Regions from separate parts of the Homo sapiens genome. Here region 2 is linked to region 1. A link means that fine-mapping ties the variant in region 1 to the expression of a gene that starts in the linked region. Tissue or cell type: whole blood. Region 1 holds a variant in brackets; the other region holds the start of a gene. All regions are shown on one strand. Distances are between the middles of the regions.

Region 1 (8,103 bases):
GGCAGAACCATGACTACACTCTGGGCAGTCTGGTTCTCAACCATTTATACTTCGCTGCCTGTAAATGAACTGTGTGGCTCCTTCCTGTGACACCCAGATTCTATATGATATGGTGTTCATTGGAATTTCCTTTTTTGAAGTCCTTTTTTGGTGATGCGTTTTGGAAGATCCAAACTGGGTTGCAAGGGAAAGTGGAGGAATGTGAAGAAACCTAGGCCTTAGGTCTGTAAACAGGGCCATATTCAGGCCTCAACTTAGAACTTACCTTTCCCAGAAGAAAACCTCTCCAGAGACTGTGACCCCACAAACCTGCTTGAATGTCTTCCTTCTCTGTTCCTATGTGGCACCATAATTGGCTGTTTAAATGTCTCTCTCCTCTCACTGGGCTCCACATTTAGCCAGGACAGGACTGCCTTGTTCACGTCTGTATCTCCAGCACTCAGCACAATGTCTGGTCCATAAAAGTTCACAACACATATTTGTTAATTCTTAATGATGGAGTAAATTATTGTACTAGAAGAACTAATAATGTGACAGCTTTTATTGGATATTTTATTCCAGATACTGTGGTTAATTTTTTTACTTATTTTACAGATAATTGTAATACTGAATTGTGATTTATCTAAAAGTGTTCTCTCATTTAATCCTTACGGTAATTGTGGGAGTTAATAAGTATCATTGTTAACTATTTTACAGATGACGAATGAGGTGAAGCTTAGAGAGATTACATGACTTGTCTAAAGTCACCTGTTTAATCAGTAGAGCCTGGATTTGAACCCTTACCTGTCTTATTCCAGAGCCTGTGGTCTTTACACGTTAACGTTCTGCTTTCCTGGAGATTTGCACAGTCAAGTCAAATTGGAGAAATCATAGAAATTTCTGTTCTTGAAAAATTGCTAAGAAGCCTGCTCCAGTGTTGGGATGATTTGCCATATAAGAGCAAAAACAACAAAAAATAGATTAAGCCATACATTGCAGTGGTTCCTTTCTGTGCACCTGCTCTTAAAGCATACACAGCTTCAGCGTGGACTGGCATTAAGCTATTTTAAAAAGGAAACCACTTTCATATACCCATTGTTAACAATAGCAGTTGTCTTAGTTGACACAAAATTGGTCTGATAACCCTGGTTGGTTTGCTAGATTCAAATGTGTGACATGAGCAAATTGTGGTAGCTATTTATGACCAACATTAAGCATTTTATTCTTAATCAGATGTGGAACTGGCTAATGGGTGAGGTCTAAGTTGGTGTTAACTAGATTGTCTGGCTGGCATTTCTGTTGATTGAGGATAGCAGAGAGACTGAGACATTACAATGTAGTAGGCTCTTTAGGCCCTAATGATAGCTAAAGCTTTTCTTTTTTTTTTTTTTTTAACTTTTTAAATTTCTTTTTTTTTTTCTTTTTTCTTGTTTCTTTTTTTTTTTTTTTTTTTTGAGACAGAGTCTCTCTCTGTCGCCAGGCTGGAGTGTAGTGGCACGATCTCGGCTCACTGCAACCTCTGCCTACCGGGTTCAAGCGATACTCCTGCCTCAGCCTCCCAAGTAGCTGGGACTACAGGCGCACACCACCACGACCAGCTAATTTTTGTATTTTTAGTAGAGGTGGGGTTTCACCTTGTTGGCCAGGATCTCCTGACCTCATGATCCACCTGCCTCAGCCTCCCAAAGTGCTGGGATTATAGGCGTGAGCCACCGCGCCCGGCCTTTACATTTTAATAGTGCCATTCATTTCCAGAACTGGTAATTTATATATTGGAGGATATTGTCTTATTGTATTAACATTTTGAATAATACCAAGGTTTAGGGTTTTTTTTTTTTTTTTTTTAAGCCATGGAACATCCTTTTAATTTACAATTTGGCTATTTAGAATTGTATTTTGGCAAAAAGACTTTCATATTCTCTTTTGCTATGTCTGCTAGTGCAGTTGGTTACATCTTTTTGGTTCTAGGGATTTGGATTCTTGTAATTTGATCGCATGTCCTTGGTAGTGGCTTTTTCTAGAAGTGAAAGTTGATATTGACTATACGATGTCATATCTAGAAAATTGAGAGTTTTGGGTGGAGGTAATAAATGAGAAATGGGCCTGAGAAAATGTATAACGTCTGTGGTGTTGATATTACATAATAGGTTTGTTTCTCTCTTCTTTCAGACTGGTCGAATTGACAAATCTTACCCTACAGTATGTGGCCACACAGGACCAGTGCTGGACATAGACTGGTGCCCACATAACGATCAGGTCATTGCCAGCGGTTCAGAGGACTGCACGGTCATGGTAAGCTCCCAGGGTGTTGTGTGCACACAGGCCAGTGAGACTCACCTACTGCTTTCAAAAGCATGTGTGTGGGTGTGTGTGTATGTATAGAGGCTTGAAAAGCAGAACGTTATAGCAGTTTTGACTGTCTGTTGGATTTTACAATAATTTACTACGTTTAAGTTTAATTACAGATAATCCTTTCAAGAAGCCCTTAAATCAAAAAGGTTGTACTGCAGTGTCTGCCGTGTCTTTCTTTTTCTTTTTTTTTTTTGAGATGGAGTCTTGCTCTGTCACCCAGGCTGGAGTGCAGTGGCATGATCTCGGCTCACTGTAACCTCCGCCTCCCGGGTTCAAGTGATTCTCCTGCCTCAGCCTCCCGAGTAATTGGGATTACAGGCATCTGCTACCACACCTGGCTAATTTTTGTATTTTTAATAGAGACGAGGTTTCACCATGTTGGCCAGGCTGGTCTCGAACTCCTGACCTCAAGTGATCCGCCTGCCTCGGCCTCCCAAAGTGCTGGGATTACAGTCTTTTCTGTGAGTGTGTTTGTGTATGTGCTTATTGACAGTTGACATGTTCTCTGTTGGAAGATTTTAGGGAAAGTAAAGTGACTTTTCAGTAATTCTGTAATGCCATTTGACCACATGAATTTCCCCTCGCCCCAAAAGGAGAGAAAAAACTGAAACTGCTGGCACAGACTGTACAAGACAGTGACGTAAGATGCCAAAGTTATGCAGATAAAATGGGATATGTCACAGGTGGTAAAAGAGTTTTTGCAATTGCTTGTTTCCAAGCTAATGGCAGAACTGTGTTCTGTCCAGTGGACCCTGGTTAAGAAAGTCCTTTTCATAAAGATATACAAACAAAAAACGTGAAAGGTGAATTAAGTACTTTACATTCCCTCCTTTAGTTTCCAAAAGTAGGTTATGTGTGAAACAAGGCTTTGGAATACTTTTTAATATGATTTCTTGTCCTTAGTTATGATTTTTAACTTTAAAATGTGATTATTGGTTTGGATCAGTTTTTAATGCTAGCCCAAAGTAGGCTGAAAAGGTTAGGCATAAACACAAATGGGAGTACTTGCTGCCCCTGAAATAAGGGAAGATGGTCTCTAATTAATTTGTAAGCAGTCTCGCACATGTCAGGTAGTCTCGCACGTGTCAGCATT[G/C]GAGAACCATGCTACTTTTATTTTCCTCTCTATTGGCTGTGGACTGAAACATTGTTTGGAAAGCTTTATTAATTAAAATTATTTTACATAAATACAAATTAATTCCTGAACTGTGTCATTTAAACATTTACCCGCTTTTCCTCATGGGCTTTTGGCTGGGAATGTCTCCTCCTGTGATCTCATAATTTTGGCAGCTAAAGCATATTAAGGAAATACGCTGCTGTGAAAGGGAATTGTTCTGTTTAATGTGCCTTGCTAAATTGATCATTTTAATGGCTATGGACGCATTTTGTTAAGAGAAAGGAATATCGTTTAGACCTGATGCCAGAATTTTTTTTTTTTTTTTTGGGATGGAGTCTCACTTTGTCACCCAGGTTGGAGTATAATGGCGTGATCTCAGCTCACTGCAACCTCTACCTCCCAGGTTCAAGTGATTCTCCTGCCTCAGCCTCCCGAGTAGCTGGGATTACAGCCCTGCGCCACCATGCCTGGCTAATTTTTATGTTTTTAGTAGAAACGGAGTTTCATCATGTTGGCCAGGCTGGTCTCGAACTCCTGACCTCAAGTGATCCCCCCGCCTCAGCCTCCCAAAGTGCTGGGATTACAGGCACGAGCCACTGCGCCTAACTCTGATGCCAGAATCTTAAACGGAGAGTCTGAACCTCTTTTGAAGAAGCAGGTTTGATCCATCTCTGGCTCTCCCTGTCTCTAGCATTACTGGTCACGTTATCCTTTTAAAAAAAATAGTGTGTATTATAAAACAGAAAAACACACCAAATAGTTAAGTGAAAAAGCAGACTCAGGGAGTTAAGTGATTTATGACATAGCGAACACCATGAAACCACCTTCCATGTCAAAAAGTAGAACTTTCCCAACCTCCTCAGACTTCTCCATGTGCCCCATCCCAGTCACAACATCCCTCCTCCCTCTCAAAGTAACCACTCTCCTGACTTTTGTAATACTCATTTCCTTGCCTTTCTTTGTAGTGGTAATCACTCAGGTGTATACCTCTAGACTCTAGATTGGTCTTGCCAGTTTTAAAAACTTGATATGTAGTCTTTTAAGTCTTAATCTAAAGATTCCTCCTTCATCATTTTCTTTTCCCTACAATTTATCTATTCGGAAGCCCTGACCTTTGACCTGTGCTTTTCAACCATCTGGATTTTGCTGATTGTACCCTCATGTTGCAGTTCAGCTTGCTCCTCTGTCCTCTGAATTTCCTGCAAATTGGCAGCTGGAACCTGAAGTGCGGTCAGATTCAGGTTCTGTCCTTTTGGCTAGACTATATTGTTCGCATTATGTTCTTCCATACGCTAGGAAGCACATGATGTCACAGTGTCTGGGTTTCATCCTTTTTCCATTTGTGTATTCTGTGCCTATATCCAGTCATTCACTAGGGGTTGCAATATGGTGACAGTAAATTCTGTCATTTTGTTTTCAATTTTTAGCTGGTAAAATTTTATAAGATAATGTCCTCACTTACTTACTATTTAGTTACCAAATAGTATAGTTCATTTAGGAAAGCAGGATAAGTGCTTGATTCTTTCCTTTTATTTACCTAGTTCTCAAGATAATGAATTGATTCTCTGTCATCCTCAGAAGGTGACAAATTAGGGTTTTTTTTTCCCCGTTCCTTTCATTTTGAAGTCATGGATTTGAACATATTTGATGGGTTCAATCCATTATAATTCTTATCTCAAAGCCGACTTTCTCGCCTTTTCCCATTGAAACCTCTTCAAGATTTCTGAGTCCTTTTGAAATGACCATCATAGTCTTTGAGTCTTTGATAGATAGATTCCTTGCTATGTGATATGTTGAGGTGTTTCAGGCTCACTTTGGACATCCCTGCCCAAGCCATTTCTTTCGGAAGTCCTGGTTTATTTTAAGGGAAAATTATATCTATTAAGTATGCAGTAGCATTATGTATATATATATATACATTTAAAAATACTGTATTACCAAAGAGAGTGTAATCTTTTTGCTGTGGAGGGTTTCCCCTCAGTGTTGATGGCTGCTGACTGATGAGGGTGGTGGTTGCTGAAGGTTGGGCTGGATGAGACCACGACAATAAAGTTTGTCATACTGATTGACTTGGCCTCTCACAAAAGCTTTCTCTGTAGCATGTGATGCTGTTTGATAGCATTTTACCTGCCATAGAACTTCTTTCAAAATTGGAGTCAGTCCTCTCAAACCCTTTTGCTGCCTTATCAACTAAGTTTATGTAAGTAATATTCTAAATGTTTTGTTGTCATTTCAACAGTGTTCACAGCGTCGTTACCAGGAGTACATTCCATCTCAAGAGACCATTTTCTTTGCTTATCCATAAGGAACAACTCCTCATCTGTTCAAGTTTTATCATGAGATTGCAGCAATTCACTCACATCTTGAGGCTCCACTTTTTATTCTCTAGTTCTCTATTTCCACCATATCTACAGTTACTTCTTCCACCAAAGTCTTGAACTCCTCAAATGTTGATATTTAGAACTCCTTCCACGAATCATGAATTTTCTTAATGTCACCTAAAATGGTGAATCCTTTCCAGAAGGTTTTTTTTTTTTTTTTTTTTAAATTGAGACGGAGTCTCGCTCTGTCGCCCAGGCTGGAGCGCAGTGGTACGATCTCGGCTCACTGCAACCTCCGCCTCCTGGGTTCAAGCGATTCTCCTGCCTCAGCCCTCCGAGTAGCTGGGACTACAGTCATGTGCCACCATGCCCGGCTAATTTTTTGTATTTTTAATAGAGATGGAGTTTCACCATGTTAGCCAGGATGGTCTCCATCTCCTGATCTCGCGATCCGCCCGCCTTGGCCTCCCAAAGGTGTGAGCCACCGTGCCCAGCCCAGAAGGTTTTTAATTCACTTTGCCCAGATCCATCAGGGGAATCACTATCAGTGGTAGCTGTAGCCTTATGAAATGTATTTCTTAAATAATAAGATTTGAAAGTCAAAATGATTCCTTGTTCCAAGGGCTGCAGAATTGATGTTAGCAGGTGAAAACAACGTTAATCTCCTTGTACATTTTCATCAGAGGTCTTGGGTGATAAGGTGCATTGTTGGTGAGCAGTAATATTTTGTAAGGAATCTTTTTTTTTCCTGATCGGTGGTTCTCAATGGTGGGCTTAAAATATTCAGTAAACCATGCAGTAAACAGATGTGCTGTCATTCATGCTTTGTTTTTCCATTTCTAGAACATAGAGTAGATTTAGCATAATTATTTATTTATTTATTTTTTATTTTATTATTATTATACTTTAAGTTTTAGGGTACATGTGCACAATGTGCAGGTTAGTTACATATGTATACATGTGCCATGCTGGTGTGCTGCACCCATTAACTCATCATTTAGCATTAGGTATATCTCCTAATGATTTAGCATAATTCTTAAGGGCCCTAGGATTTTTGGTGCGGTAAATGAGCATTGGCGTCAACTTAAAGTCACCAGCTGCGTGAGCCTCTAACAAGACAGGCAGCTCATCTTTTGAAGCTTTGAAGCCAGGCATTGACTTCTCCTCTCTAGCCATGAAAGTTCTAGATGGCATCTTCTTTCAGTAAAAGGCTGTTTCATCTACACTGAAAATGTGTTGTTTAGTGTAGCCACCTTCATCAATGATCTTATCCAGACCTTCCGGATAACTTGCTGCAGCTTCTCCATCAGCACTTGCTGCTTTCCCTTGTACTTTTATATAATGGAGATGGCGTCTTTCGTTAACCTCATGAACTAACCTCTGCTAGTTTCCAACTTTTCTTCTGCAGCTTCTTCACCTCTGTCAGCCTCCATGGAATTGAAGAGAGTTAGGACTTTGCTCTGGATTAGGCTTTGGCTTAAGGGAATCTTGTGGCTGGTTTGTATTTCTATCCAGACCACTAAAACAAGGCTGTTTTTGCTTTTTTATCATTCATGTGTTCACTGGAGTAGCACTTTTAATTTCCTGAACTTTTCTTTTGCATTCACAACTTGGCTAACTGGCTTAAGAGGCGCTTAGCTTTTGGCCTGTTTCAGCTTTCAACATGGCTTCCTCACTAAGCTTAATCATTTCTAATTTTTTATTTAAAGTGAGAAATGTGCAACTCTTCCTTTCACCCAAACACTTAAAGGTCATTTAGGGTTATTAATTGGCCTAATTTCAATGTTGTTATGTCTCAGATAATAGGGAGGCCCAAGGAGAGGAAGAGACAGGAATACAGGAAGAGCAGGTGGTGGAGCAATGAGAAAACACACAGCGTTTATCGATGAAGTTCACTGTCTTATATGAGTGCAGTTCATAGTGCCCCGAAACAATTACAGTAGTAACATCAGACATTACTGATCACTGTAACAGATACAGTAATAACAAAAAAGTTTGAAATCCTGCAAGAATTGCCAAAATGTGACACAGAGACAGTGAACATACGCTGTTGGAAAAATGGTGCAGATAGACTTGCCTTAGGGTTGATAAAAAGCTTCAATTTGTTTAAAAAAAAAAACAAAACAAAAACACCACCACAATATCTGTGAAGTGCAATAAAATGAGGTATGCCTGTATTTACCTAACCTCTTTAATATTAATTACATCTCCATCTCCTTTCTTTCACACAGAGAATGCAGGGTCTTAGGGATACAGAAGAAGAATTAGAACATCCTGATCTATCTCATTTGTCTTTTCACGTTATACATGTAATAGTCTCAGAGTGAAAATACTAAT
Region 2 (8,103 bases), 55 kb before region 1:
TATTATTATTTGTTAATGCTTCCACAGGGTAATTCACTGAGCTTCTAGGTTGCCCTAGCAACCTAAAACAAATGTCCCCATTTGGTACTCAGAAAAAATAGAAAAATGATTTGCTAAGGAGCCTCTGGATGCTGGGCCCACAGTTCTTTCCACTTCATACATAAGCTGGCATCTATATCATGTGTGGTCTGGAATCATTTTTATTTTTCCTGATCATTAAATTCCTCTCCATCTAGCACCTGTCTTAAGCCACTTTAGAAATCACCAGCTTTTGAGAGCAGGAAAAAACTCTTAAATCCAGCATCTCACCTGGACTTGGATCCCTCCCTTTAGGGCCAGCTTGGACAGAGCCAAGGTTTCTTTCAGGCCCACAAAGCAATTGCTGTAGGTTCAAGAACAATGAGATGATGGGGCTTTCTCCCAGCAGAGTTATGCAGTTTTCCTGTTTCTGGAAGTAAGCAGCTCTCAGCTGACCACATTTGGGATAGGCATGGAGTGAAAGTGAGGTGGCATTGCTTCTGGCATTGGGTGCTTCCTGTGCAAGAATCACCTCCTCAAATGCAGGGCTCAAACCAGGAACTGAAAGAGGCAGTCAGAAGATGAAGGCCTTGGGATCTTTCGTAGCATATTCCATGGCTGCTTTTTGGCGGTATCATCTGGCGGGGGGAATTCTTCTAATTTCATCATTATCATTTCATCACTTCTAACTTCATCATTTATCTATGATCTCATGGAACCCCAAGATTTTTTTATTTTTATTTATTTCTATTTTTTTTTTCAGAGTCTCACTCTCGCCCAGGCTGGAGTGCAGTGGCGCTATCTAGGCTTACTGCAACCTCCACCTCCAAACTCGAGTTCAAGCAATTCTTCTGCCTCAGCCTCCCAAGTAGCTGGGATTACAGACGCGTGCCACCATGCCTGGCTAATTTTTGTATTTTTAGTAGAGACGGGGTTTCATCATATTGCCCAGGCTGGTCTCGAACTCCTGACCTCAAACAATCCGCCTGCCTCAGCCTCCCAAGTGCTGGGATTACAGGTGTGAGCCACCACTCCTGGCCGGAACCCTGTGATTTTTAAACATCAACATGTTTTAAAACAACTATTTTGTGCTGGGCACTGTGTTGGGTGCTTTGCCACGTCCTAATTCATTGAATCTAAACTCCTGAATATTCAAAACCACTTCCTGAAGCATTTACATGATTCCCAGTGATATATAGGCAGAAGAATAGGGCTCAGCTCAGAGGGGAAGTGACTTGCTGAACGTCACACAATGAGTAATAGGTGGAGCCTGAATTTAAACCTAAACCGGCCAGAATCCAAAGTCCACGGTTTTTCTGTTCTGTCATGCTGCCACAGAGGCAGTTTAGTGTAATGACTAACTGGCTAAGGGTGCAGGCTCTGCATTTAGATGGATGTGGGTTCTACGTGGTTCAAGCCATGTGACTTGGACAAGGAATTTAACTTCTCTGAGTCTTCAGTTTCCTCACCTTTATAGGTGGGGATTAGGAGTCCCTTCTGGGCTGGGTGTGGTGGCTCATGCTTGTAATTTCAACACCTTTGGGAGGCCAGGAATTTGAGACTAGCCTGGGCAACAAAACAAGACCCCATCTGTACAAAAAGTAAAAATATTAGTGAGCAAAGTGGTGTGCACCTGCAGTTTTAGCTGCTTGGAAGGCTGAGGTGGAAGGATTGCTTGAGCCTGGTAGTTCGAGGCTGCAGTGAGCCAGATGGAGCCACTGCTCTCCAGCCTGGGCAAAAGAGTGAGACCCCGTCTCAAAAAGAAAAAAAAAAAAGAATTATTTCTGTGGCCATAGGATTGTTGAGCAATTTCAGAAGATTCTGCATGTAAAGCACTCAGATAGTGCCTAGCATGTCTAAGTGATGGATAAATGTTAGCAATAATCTGTTTCCAAAGAATAAGCTAGCTTACTCCGTGGTTTCCAGTTGGAACTCGGCCGGACGCGGTGGCTCACGCCTGTAATCCCAGCACTTTGGGAGGCCGAGGCGGGTGGATTACAAGGTCAGGAGATCGAGACCATCCTGGCTAACATGGTGAAACCCCGTCTCTACTAAAAATACAAAAAATAAGCCGGGCGTGGTGGCGGGTGCCTGTAGTCCCAGCTACTCGGGAGGCTGAGGCAGGAGAATGGCGTGAACCTGGGAGGCGGAGCTTGCAGTGAGCTGAGATCGCGCCACTGTACTCCAGCCTGGGCGACAGAGCAAGACTCCGTCTCAAAAAAAAAGGAACTCAAAGCACTTTACCAATCTTCATTTTCCCCAAAGCACTCAGAACTCACTGCTATCAATGCCCCTGTTTAATTTATTAACTAGTGGATTTTAAAAAAACAACTTTTATTGTTCAAAACTATTGAATTGTGGGCACAGTGGCTCATACCTGTAATCCCAACACTTTGGGAGGCCGAGGTGGGAGGATCTCTTGAGCTCAGGAGTTTGAGGCCAGCCTGGGCAACATAGCAGGACTTCATCTCTACAGAAAAATGTTAAGAATTTAGCTGGGCATGGTGGCGCGTGCCTGTAGTCTCAGCTACGTGGGAGGCTGAGGTGGGAGGATTACTTGAGCCCGGGAGGTCCATGCTGCAGTGAGCCGTGGACTGCCCCACTGCACTCCAGCCTGAGCGACAGAGCAAGACTGTGTCTCAAACAAACAAAAACAAGTGAATTGTTTTTGAGCCTCACCATATGGCAGGCACTGCAGTAGGCGTTTCATCACGTTTATCTCATTTAAATAAAGTGAGTGGCAAATCTTACTGCAGGAAGGGTGCTGAATTCCTCCTATTAGGAGTGGCTGCTTGAAGGCAAAATAAAACCCATCCTTTCATTTTGTTGAGTCCCAGCAGTAGCAGCAACAGGTACTGTCGAGCGTTTATCACAAGCCAGGAACTCTTCTAAGTATATTACTATTATCCTGGTGCAAAAGTAATCGCGGTTTTTGCCATTCCTTTTAATGGCAAAAAGTAATGCCACGATCATGGCTGCTAATATGATCTCATGGAACCCTGTGAGGGAGGGGCTGTTATCCCCATTTTACAGATAAAGAAACTGACCCTTAGAGAGGATAAATAATTTGCTGTGATAGCTGTCTTAGTTCAGGTCAAGCTTGATTTAAATAACACACGTTTCTGAGGCTGACGCTTAAAATAAAAAATCCCCCTGTGAATGGCAAAGATGCCTTGCTTTGGGAAGTAAATAGCCCTACCCCACAGTCGGTTCGGTTCCCCAGGCTCTGTTTCCTCAAATCTCGGTATTTCAGAGCTTGGTGTTTCAGAAAGGGACTTTAGCTATTAACAGGACAACTTCTTCATGCTGAAGATTAGGGGACTCAGGCCCAAAGAGGTAAGAGAACTGTCCCAGGTCACACAGTCTGACGGCCGCAGAGCTGAGGCTCAAATTCCCGTGCTCCGACTTTCAGGCCTGGGCCGCCGAGTTATTAAGGGACTCTGGCCAGGGAAAGGAAGGGAGGAACCCTGAAGTTTCCATTCCCTCACCTGCGAAATGGGGTCAATCACGGGCCCTCTTTGGGGTTACGTGGGTGTGGCCCAGCCCAGGGGCGGCCACTCTGCACTAGGAATGTGACAATGGACGGTTCAGGGAGGGCTGGAACGTCGGCAGTCCTCAAGGGAGGTGGTGGTAGGGTGTGACGGAGCCAGGGCGGAGCCTCGGGAGCCAGAGGCGTGGATTCGCGAATTCGGGGCGGGGCTTGGGGTTTAAACGTTGAGATGGGGTAGTGGGCGGGGCTTGAGATGCTAGGAATAGGGTTGCGGTCCTTGGGCGGGGCTTCTGGAAGACGGGGCGGGGCTTTGTGAGGCCGCTGGGCGAGTTCTGAAGCAGTGGGAGGGGAGCCGGGCTTAGGGAAGCAGGAGGCTGGTTTAAGGACTCGGATAGGCAGTGCGCGGGGCTCAGAGGAGCTAATGTTCCTGTATTGAGGGGCTCTGGGGGAATCTTTGAGGAGCCAGGGGACGTGGCCTTGCAGAGCCTAGCGGGTCAGTGGGCGGGGCTCTAAGAACCCCGCTCCGGGGTCTAAGGAGCAGTGGGCGTTGCTCGGAGGCGCCTGTGGGCGTGGCCCTCTACCACTCAGATGACTGGAGAGCGGGGCGTGCGCTTGGGCACCGCCTGCATCCCTCGGTGCGACCAGAGGGGGCGTAGCGAGGCGTGGAACGTGGGGTGGGAAGCGGGCTTCCCCTCCGGAAGTGGGCGTGGCGCACAGCGGCCCGGCAGCCCTGGTTGGGTCCCGCGCGGCGCGGGGGCGGGGCCTACGCGCGGTGGCGGGGGCGGTGGCGGCTGCCCGCGCCCCTCCCCCGCACGGCGCTCAGTGCCAGGCTGGAGGCGGCAGCGGTTGGAGGCTTCGCCCGGCTTTGCAGCGGGGACTTCGGCGGCGGCGCCTCAGGCACCTCGGCCCGGGTGAGCGGCTCGCGCCCGGCGGGGGCAGCCTGAGAGCGAGTCGGGCGGGCGGACCTGTCCTCTGAGCATGTGCCTGCGCCGCCTGACAGGAGCCGGCGGGGCGAGGGGCAGGGCTAGGTGGAGGGGACAGTGCTGGGTGGGCGCGCGGGGCGCGGGTTCACGGGCTGGGTTGCAAGGGGTTAGGGCCGGGGGCTGCTGTCGGGGGCTCGGGGAAAGGGAGTTGGGGACCGAACCAGGTGGCGTGGGGAGCGTGAAGCAGGGTCCCTGTGGGGAGGAGGCTTTCGAGGTCCGGAACGCTCCTGGCCGGGTGCGGAGCCGCGGGCCGAGGTGGGACGAGGCTGCCCAGGGAAGGCTTTTAGGGGTCAGGGATCGCCTGCTTGGGCGAGGTGCTGGGAGGGAAGGGCTGCTTCGGGCGAGGCGTAGAGCCCGGGGGCTCCAGGCCTGGGGACTGGGTTTGGGCCGCCCCAGGGAACGAGTGGGTGGGGGCGGGTAGGGGCCGGGCTCACGTGGGGCCGGGGCGAGCTGGGCCCTGCGTCGGGAGGGGCGAGGGCGGCCGCCTGGCCTGCGGGTTTCCTGGCTTTGGGTGCGAGACCAGCTCTGGGCCCTGCAGATCTCGGTTGGGGGTCAGGCGGGGCGGGGCAGAGCTGGAGCTGGAGTAATGTGGGTGGGGGCGGCTTGGGAAGAGGCTGAGCCCGGCCAAGGGAGCAGAGGGCTGGGACTGGCTGGGGGTTGGGAGGGGAGGAACGAAGCAGGAAGGCTGTCGGATCGGGGGCCCAGGGTGTCCGAGTGAACTGGGTGATTCAGAGGTGTGTTTCCCTAATAGCGGGGCAGCTGGCGAGGGACGCAGTAAAAAGGAGCGAGGTGCAGGTGGGGCCCCGCTGCGCCGAAATGACTGAGGATGAGGTCAGACGTGGAGGGTGGGAATGCAGAAACCGAGCTCTCCCGCCTGTCCCCACCGGCGCACGCTCCCCAGCTCTCCGTCTCTCAAATGATTTGAATGTGTTGGGGGAAGTGGCAGGCTGCGGTGAGAGCTGAGAAGAAAGGGGCTTCCTCTTGGAGGGAGGCGCTGGCCCTGGCATCCTTTTTTGGGAGTGTTCAAAGGATTTTGAACGCTGGAAAAGGAATCGTAGGCTTTACTGCATCACGATTTAGAAACACATCCTATATTTGGCCGTAATGTAGGCTGCCCTTGTTTTGTGGTGTCTAAAGTGCTTGCTCTACATGTTGCAAACGTGGGATTCAGAGTGCGAAGCAAATTGCAAGTTGTTCATTTCCCCCGGCATGGTAAGATACAAAGGCTTTTCCCTCCTATAAGACATTTGAAAAGAATTGAATGTAGTGCGCGTTTAATAAACTGGTCCTGGGTGGCGAATATATTTACTTTTGGAAATAGTTACCACAAAATATTAGGCCCTCTTACCGCAGCCTTTCTGCCTGGGATTACATTCTAAAACAGTACTTGTAGGGCTCTTAGTCACTCTATATAATAATGCATCTCATTGTCCTTATCTGGCAGAACGTTCTCCTGACACCAGGGCCTGCTGGAATAGACAGAAACATGATTAAGTATAAGCAGTTGCTTTGTACCGTCTGTTCAGTTGTGAAGGCAAATAGATACCTGTTTAATATTAATTCACTTTCTGCATTCCCTGTAAAACTGAAGAAATGTGCAAAATCTATTTTGGACTTGGTTCTATACATTTCAGATGATTTAAGGAAACTAGTATTTTTGGTTTGGAGGTATGTTTCACAGTCATAATGTTTGGCTATGAAGCATAATAGTAAACATTGGATCTGAGAAATCGCATAAATAAGTAGGGAAAAAAGTGAAATAAAACTGAGAATTGTGTTGTACCTTAGGTCTTGAAGTGCAGTGTTTCGTGGTGGAGGTTAGTCGTGTGTACTGAGGATTGGACAAAGATTTGGTATAAACGTCAGGAGCACACATTTTTGACAAATATAGAACCTATCTTGTCCATATTTATTTTGATTACTTGTGGAAGGTACATTAAAGCCTGATGAATTTTAATAGATACATACCGATGAAACATAACTGCACACAATATTGACTTTTTCATGATCCTTTGTTACTTTGCCTGCAGATTGTGCTAATCAGCATTTATACTTATTTATATATAGTTTAGGATTAGATTCGGTGTCAGTGAATAGCATTTTTTTAAACACCGTTGGATTTTTTGATAAAAGTTTTATGTTTAACTTATCTGTCACTTCTGGGATCCACTCCAACCATGAGGAAGAGAGTCACTCTAACGACTATGAGATGGAATGTTCAAAAGGATGAATATCAATTCTTAGTTATATAAGTGGGTATGTCGACGAGTCTCTTCTTTATGATGGCAAAATTTTAATTTCTCATATTTTGATTTGTCACAAACTGGTACTTTAGAAACATATTATTAATTGGTCTGTTTTACCTTTGACCTCTTTTCCAGGGGTGGGGCAATAATAAATTTGAGAGCTACTTGCATTTTCAAGGTACAAATCCATGTGATAAAACCTCTTAAGCTTGTTTTCCATTTATGACTTCTCTGTGTTACTGTCTCCTTGAATTATGAAAACTCTTTTCTGACACTTGTATGTCTTTTTAAACTTAAGATACCTTTTCTGTATTAAAACAGAATTCTTCATGAATATTTCAGTATGACCTAGTACCTAGAATGTTAAGTAATAGAATCTCTCTGGGTTTTCTTTGCCCTAGTTCAGATCCTTTAAAGTGAGTGAACAAGATTCTGTACTCCTTTCTGAGTACTTTGTATTTCTAGAGTGCAGAATGGAACTTTTTTTGTTTTATAACAGCTTCATTGAGACATACTGTACAGTTCACCCGTTTAAAGTGTACAGTTCTGTGGTTTTTGGTATATTCACAGAGTTGTGCAGCTGTCACCACAGTCAATTTTAGAACATTTTCATCCCCCCCAAAAAGAAACCCCATACCCCTTAGAAGTCCTCCCGTTTCATGTAAATGGAATCATACACTATGTGGTCTTTTGTGTCTTGCCCTTATTTAGCATATTTTCAAGGTTTATATGTGTGGTAGTATTGTATAGTACTTCATTTTTTTTTTTTAATGGTCAAATAATATTCCATTGTTTGGATATGCCGTATTTTGTTTATCCATTCATCAGTTGATGAACATTTGGGTGTTTTTCCTTTTTGGCTATTATGAATAATGCTGTGAACATACGTTTTCATTTCTCCTGAGTATTTACCTAGGAATGTAATCGATGGGTTGTATGGTAACTCTATATTTAACTATTGGAGGAATGGCCAGACTTCTCCAAAGCAGCTGCACCATTTTACGGTATTCACCAAGAGTATATGAAGGTTCTAAATTCTCCACATTCTTGCCAACACTTGTTACTCTCTGACTTTTTGATTCTAGTCATCTGTGTTTCCCTAATGGCTAATGATGTTGAGCATCTTTTCATGTGGTTGGTGAACATTTGTATGTGTAATCTTTGGAGAAATGTCCATTCAAATGCTCTGCCCGTTTTTTAATGGGTTGTCTTTTTATTGGTGTTATAAAAGTTGTTCATGTATTCTAGATTCAAGTGCCTTATCAGCTGTATGATTTGCAAAAATTTTCTTGGATTCTGACATGTCCTTTCATTTTCTTGATGGTGCCCCTTTTTAGGAACAAAGATTTTAAATTTTGATGATTTC

What was found. PIP is the estimated chance that this variant, and not a neighbour inherited with it, causes the effect.
Region 2: CORO1C starts here. The variant in region 1 is fine-mapped to the expression of CORO1C in whole blood (INTERVAL, PIP above 0.99).

The regions. Positions count from the first base shown.
Region 1 is chr12:108,672,440-108,680,542 of GRCh38, reverse strand. It overlaps CORO1C (coronin 1C), which reads left to right. Exons shown (of 11, transcript NM_014325.4): 3 at 2,149-2,271. Among named protein-coding and RNA genes, the nearest start is that of MIR4496, 41 kb to the right of the region's middle. The variant G/C (reference allele first, on the strand shown) is at 3,425.
Region 2 is chr12:108,727,745-108,735,847 of GRCh38, reverse strand. It overlaps CORO1C (coronin 1C), which reads left to right and starts at 4,330. Exons shown (of 11, transcript NM_014325.4): 1 at 4,330-4,419. It overlaps LOC105369969 (a long non-coding RNA gene), which reads right to left and starts at 2,439. Exons shown (of 3, transcript XR_945328.4): 1 at 2,396-2,439. RefSeq lists enhancers at 746-1,247, 3,656-4,459 and silencers at 4,072-4,581, 4,772-5,051.